2 separate regions of the Homo sapiens genome follow, and region 2 is reported to be linked to region 1. Evidence: microRNA targets listed by miRTarBase, many of them from high-throughput screens and not tested one by one. Region 1 holds a microRNA gene; the other region holds the end of a gene's coding sequence.

Region 1 (3,152 bases):
CTTTTGTTGGTTGGCTCACTTAAACCATAAAGTGAAGTAAAAACATATGACTAAATAGGAAGTTTTTAAAAATCAGAAAACCTGGGAGTCAGAAGGCTCTTAAAGGCGAATATGGTCCATTCACCTGCTTCAGTTAAGACCACAACTACTTCATCCCAGTCAGATGTGTTTTTTTTAAAAGCCAGATTATACTTTAATCTATTTAAGTATAGTTTCAGCCCAACTGCACTGAAATCAACCTTTTCTGTTTTAGCCAACATTTTAAAAAATCTAACACAATGGTCTAATTTTTTAAAATTTTAATTAAAGGCCCATTTAGAAAAGTAACCAACTTTTGATATTCCCTGAGGTGGAACTTAAAACAGATTTTAATGTAACTGCTAACAAGGACTAAGCAAAAACTGGGAAGAAGTGTATGATAAAAAAATAGATAAATAAAGAGCAAAGGCTTGCATAAAATGTTCCAGTCACTGGATTATAATGCTTCGTTACATTTGATTTTTACCTTTTCGAGATTATACCTATGATACTGTATTACAATTTAACCAGTTATCACCTAGTCTTCCATAAAGGTTGGTGAGAAATGAAAATTAAGTAAACACAGTATTACATAAGTGCTTAGAAAAGTTTAACTGTGAAAACAATGAACAGATTTAAAAATATTCATTTGTTCATCCCTAAAAGTTTACAGAGCACTCACTGTGGGCCCGGAACTGTGCCAGGGGCCCTGGAGAGAATGAGGAGCAAACAGACATGGAGCTTACATGCTAGGCTTGTAGTGTTTTAGATGGTAATACAGTCTCTGCTCAAAATCACCAATATAAAAACATTAAAGTCCCAGCTACTTGGGAGGCTGAGGCTGGGGAATCGCCTGAACCTGGGAGGTGGAGGTTGCAGTGAGCCGAAATCACGCCACTGCATTCCAACCTGGCGACAGAGCAAGACTCCGTCTCAAAAAAATAAAATAAAATAAAATACTGAGGTCACCCTTGAAAACATAAGCCAACAATGAAAATTCAACTTCTTTCCCAAAAGGAAAACAACAATAATGAAACAGAATAAGCTACCTGAAAGAAAGCTTCCTCTTTCATTACTCTTTATCAAATTACTGTCTCTCACATATGTCCTTTTATTTCCAGGCTTATCACCACCCTCCAACCAGGCCTCCACTGCTGTAGCAACCTTTTAACTGGCTCAGGAATCCACTCCGCACACTGGGGCTCTTATCAGTGAGGATGGGCTGGTTCGTGCTGCAGTAACAAACAATCCACAAAAATCTAAGAGGCTTAAAATGAAAGTTTCTTTCTTTCTCATGCCACTTAACAGCTGTGTGGCCTTGGGTACACTACTGAACCATTCTGGCCCTCAGTCTCCTCATCTGCAACATGGGAGAGGTATCATCATTAAATGAGGTAAGAGACGAATACTCAGAACTGTGCCTAGGACACAGGACACACTCAATAAGCAACTACTATTGCTGTAATCGTTGTTATTCTTGACACCACAAATCTTGATCAGAAGCCTTCCTAGCTTCTGATCAAGGCTTCTGATCAAGATTTGGGGTATCAGAAATAATGGGATATGACTACACCCTATCATCTAGCCATCTGTCTCCCACAGTAGATCATGAGCTACTTGAGAACAAGGACTGCCTCTGACTCCACTGTTGAACTGCAGAGGTTCACAGAAAGTGGCACATGGTAAGCACTCAGAAAGTGCTTGCTGCACTAAAGGGAACGATGTTGAATAATAATCACTGGTACGTGAATAAACCCCACATGTGCTGGACATACACAGAGTCCCATATTAATGAGGGCACACTCTCAGATGCATCTGGCCCGCAGGAAACCTGACTAAAAGCACATGATGAAGATAGGGAATGTCATCTGTAGGTGGGAAAGATGGCTTTACAGGCCCAGAACCAAGCCACAGTTGAGCTAGGCCACCAGTACATGGGCTACTGCTCCCAGGGAAGTCTAAGCAAACGAAGGAGGATGTTCCACGTTGTGGAATTAGCACAAATCTATCTCCACGTGGGGAAAGAATGTAATTCAAGATTCCCCCTGTTCCTCCTTCCTTTCTTAGGGCCATCATTCCCCTGCCCCATGCTCTCCTGGCACACTGGCACACAACAGCCAGCATGGAAAAAACTTTCTGAGGGGATAGAGGTGCTCTCTGTACCTTGACTGGGGTGATAATTACACAGGTGCAGACATCTGTCAAAACTTATCAGCCATTCATTAAAAATCTGTGTTTAGCTGTATGTAAATTAGAAAGAGAGAGAAGCAAGCGATGGACAGTGCTGACTGTTATATGGTCCCTTAGCTCATGCCGGCAGCTGAGGTGTGACCCCATCCCACCCCATCCCCTACAAAACTAGAGCTTTATGAAGGGCAGGGTGGCTGGGAGGGAGGAGCTGATGCAGCTTGGTAAACTGGCCTCTGGAGGACATTATGAAACCTTGCTCATCCTCGTGCAGCCTCAGCTCCCTCAGGAGGCCTTTCCTCCTGCTTCATGGCACAAGAAGAGTACGGAACCCTCACCCTGATCAGACTGCTCTAGAATCTTTTTTGTTTGTTTGTTTGACACGGAGTCTTGCTCTGCCCAGGCTGGAGTGCAGTGATGCTATCTCGGCTCACTGCAACCTCTGCCTCCCGAGTTCAGGTGATTCTCCCGCCTCAGCCTCCCGAGTAGCTGGGATTACAGGCATGCGCCACCACGCCCGGCTACTTTTTGTATTTTTAGTAGAGACAGGGTTTCACCATGTTAGCCAGGCTGGTCTTGAACTCCTGACCTCAGGTGATCCGCCCACCTCAGCCTCCCAAAGTGTTGGGATTACAGGTGTGAACCACCATGCCCGGACTCTAGAATCTTTTACTATTTATCATTGTCCCTCTAAGCTTCAAGTTACTTGAGGGTGAGGACCTTTTCTTCCCCTTCCTTCTCTCCAGCACCTCGCATAATGCTTGGCACACAGTGTGCTCTTAATCAATATTTGTTTCTCTGGCAGTAAGTTTCTAAAGTTATCTTTAAAGATATGAGATATACTGCCTTTAAATAAGAATGGTACTTCTAAGTAAGAATAATGTCTAAATTACATTAAATCTTGTTAACTCTAAAGATTTAAATCTCTTCTTTTTTGGAGAGGTATG
Region 2 (3,000 bases), not on the chromosome of region 1:
TGCCTGCCCGGGAGCCCTGGAGGACATCTGCGACCCTGCCGAGGAACCCGCGGCCAGCCCGGGCGGCCCCTCCGCCTCGCGGGCGGCGTGGGAAGCCTGCTGTCACCCGCCGGAGGTGGTGCCGGGGGCCTTAAGCGCGGACCCCCGGCCTTTAGCCGTTCGCTTAGAGGGCGCAGGCGCGTCGAGTCCCGGCTGCGCGCTGCGCGGGGCCGGCGGGCTGGAGCCCGGGCCATTGCCAGAAGACGTCTTCTCGGGGCGCCAGGATTCACCTTTCCTTCCCGACCTCAACTTCTTCGCGGCCGACTCCTGTCTCCAGCTATCCGGAGGCCTCTCCCCTAGCCTACAGGGTTCTCTCGACAGCCCGGTCCCTTTTTCCGAGGAAGAGCTGGATTTTTTCACCAGTACGCTCTGTGCCATCGACCTGCAGTTTCCCTAACCTGTTTCCTCCTCCCGGTCCTTTCGACCCCCGCGCTCCTTGGCCGTCTACTGGAAAAATCGAGCCTCTCCCACCCTCAGTCGCATAGACTTATGTGTTTTGCTAAAATTCAGGTATTACTGAATTAGCGTTTAATCCACTCCCTTTCTTCTTCTTCTAAAATATTGGGCACTCGGTTATCTTTTAAAATTCACACAGAAAAATTCCGTTTGGTAGACTCCTTCCAATGAAATCTCAGGAATAATTAAACTCTAGGGGGACTTTCTTAAAAATAACTAGAGGGACCTATTTTCCTCTTTTTTATGTTTTAGACTGTAGATTATTTATTAAAATTCTTTAATAATAGGAAAAGGGGAAAGTATTTATTGTACATTATTTTCATAGATTAAATAAATGTCTTTATAATACCAAAACGAGTGTTTGTGTTGGGACCTAAACTCTTTCCCCGCGGCCCCAAGGCCGGTCCTCACCCCTCCAGGACCTGTGCGAAGTTGATTAGGTTCAGCGGCCCATATGGCAGCAAAGCCTCCAGGGCCGGCGAAGTCCGGGTGGTACAAAGGTGACCCGATTGATGGCCGCTTCGCCCACGGCTCCGGCAAAAGTCGGGAGTTTGCAGGAAGCTGGGTCACCTCCCCGCCCCTCAGCAGAGGGTCTTTGGTCCTGAGCGGGTGGTTCTGGGGCCTCTGCTTGGAAATAGAGATGGGCAGGTCGAGGGAGAGAGTGTACAGCGAACAGAGGAGGGTGAAAGGAGAGGAAGCCTGTGGACAGTCTTCAGGGTCGTGGCGGGGGCAGAAGTTTACTGGAATTGGGAACAATCCAAGGGCTTCCTAGGCTTTTGCTTCTTATGACCGAAGCCGGTGTAGGACCTTTTTCCGAACTCAAGAAGCCTAGGGACGCGAGGCCTGGGGCTTGAGCCGGGCCTCTTTGGGAGCTGTAGGTGGCTCTCCAAGGAGTGGAGTGGGGTCGGGGATTTTCTCGGGAAGCAGGGTCCCGCACCCAGGGATGGTAACTGGCTTCCCAGTGGGCAAGAAAAGAGGCCAGCTGAGAAATGTGGCGCTGCCGGGACACCCATGGACTCGGGCTGCTGGGGTTTGGGAGACCATCCAAGCAGCAGCCGGGCGAGAAGCCCAGGGTGGCCCGGCAGCGTCGCGAGGCGCTGGACCTGCGGGGAGAGAAGGAGGAGCGAGGAGAGCGGGAGGGAGACAGGGAAGCAAAGACGATGCTCAAAATGGCGCTGGGGCCGGGCGGCGGGCCGGGGGGGGGGCGAGGGAAGAAGCTGTGGCCGCCATGACAGCCGCTGCAGGAGGCGCCGGCCCAGCCGGGATCTGCCCCCGCCCCTGCGTCCTCCCAGCTGGATTTTCCAGAGGCCAGGGAAGAAGGGGAGCCTGGGGGGTCCCACCTTCGTTTTAGTTAGTTTGATTTTTTTATTTTTAAAGTGGAGCCCAACGGACGCTGAGGACGCGAGATGGAAGGAGAGTCCGGGTGGATGTGGGAAGGGAAGGAGAGCGGCGGGTCTGCGGGCCTGGGTGTGCCTCATCCAGTCTGACTTTTGATTCTTCGCTGTGGGATTTGAAGCCAGGCCAGAGCTTTCTCTGAATGCAGACCCACCAGTCTTGACCAACAACTTCATTTCACGTATCAACACCATGTCCTGTCTATCCCCCACCACACCCTGCCTGGTTCCTTGTAAACCTGGTAAGCGGGAAGCAAGGATCGATCTCCCCCATCTGCCTCCTGGTTTGTTCTGGGAAGGTGGAGGTTTAAAGGTCCCCGGAAAGCCATCCATCCTCCTTAGGTTTCTTTAATATTTCTCCCGCTCAGAAACAGACACTACGGGGCTATCTCCCCGGCAGATGCTGCCCTTCTCAAAAAGCAGTTTATTTCCTGGGCCTCCAGACTTTCCCCTGGACCAACAGGACCGGGATTTAGAGTACCAGTCACCCAGAGGCAGCAATTGTCAGGATAAGCCAGGAGCCAACATAGGTTGTGACACAGAGGACTAGACAGGCCCTTTGCATATTTTAAAATGGGTCCCTCAGTGTGGGAAGTACACACCTCTTAGTTAGCTGGAACTTAATCCCTTAAACTGTCTTAATATAGAATTCATCTCGTGCATTAATCTTACATCATGTTAAATTGCACTTATTTCTCTCATAAATAAATATAGAACAATTAGATGTGTTATAATAATGTCATGTATCTTATTTTCCCTCATAAAATATATAGGTATGAAATAAATTCAATATATTAAAGTAGTAATACACAGCTTATTGGCTTATGTGTTTATTTTCCCCATAAATAAGGGAATATACAATATATTAAAACTACGCTATACATCTCATTGGGCTGTGTGTTTATTTCTCCATAAAATATGCCCACAGGCAGTGTTTAACATCTTAAAAATCACAGCACACAAGCCATCTCTACACTAGCAAAATGAACAGATATTTCAGCTGGGGCTTTGATTTCTATGGACAGTCAAACTAGATAATTTGGTCTAATTAAAAATGCTCTTGCAGCTAGCTATAGCAGGTTGTTACAAAGATCAAGAATATCACAAGGAT

The links. Region 1 holds the annotated microRNA hsa-miR-4762-5p (CCAAAUCUUGAUCAGAAGCCU, at 1,541-1,561, opposite strand). A microRNA usually pairs through its seed, bases 2 to 8, with sites in the 3' UTR of a target mRNA and lowers its output. Matches are read on the target gene's strand: a 7mer-m8 pairs with bases 2 to 8, a 7mer-A1 pairs with bases 2 to 7 and ends in A, and an 8mer does both.
Region 2: the mRNA of HOXB2 is a reported target of hsa-miR-4762-5p. The part of its 3' UTR that is shown has no 7-base or 8-base seed match.

Annotation. Positions count from the first base shown.
Region 1 is chr22:45,758,941-45,762,092 of GRCh38, reverse strand. MIR4762 (microRNA 4762) reads right to left here and starts at 1,569; the gene lies at 1,495-1,569. All of the region lies in intron 9 of ATXN10 (ataxin 10), which reads right to left.
Region 2 is chr17:48,540,504-48,543,503 of GRCh38, reverse strand. HOXB2 (homeobox B2) reads left to right here. Exons shown (of 2, transcript NM_002145.4): 2 at 1-849. The coding sequence ends at 436. Among named protein-coding and RNA genes, the nearest start is that of HOXB-AS1, 2.3 kb to the left of the region's middle. RefSeq lists an enhancer at 1-172 and a silencer at 1-269.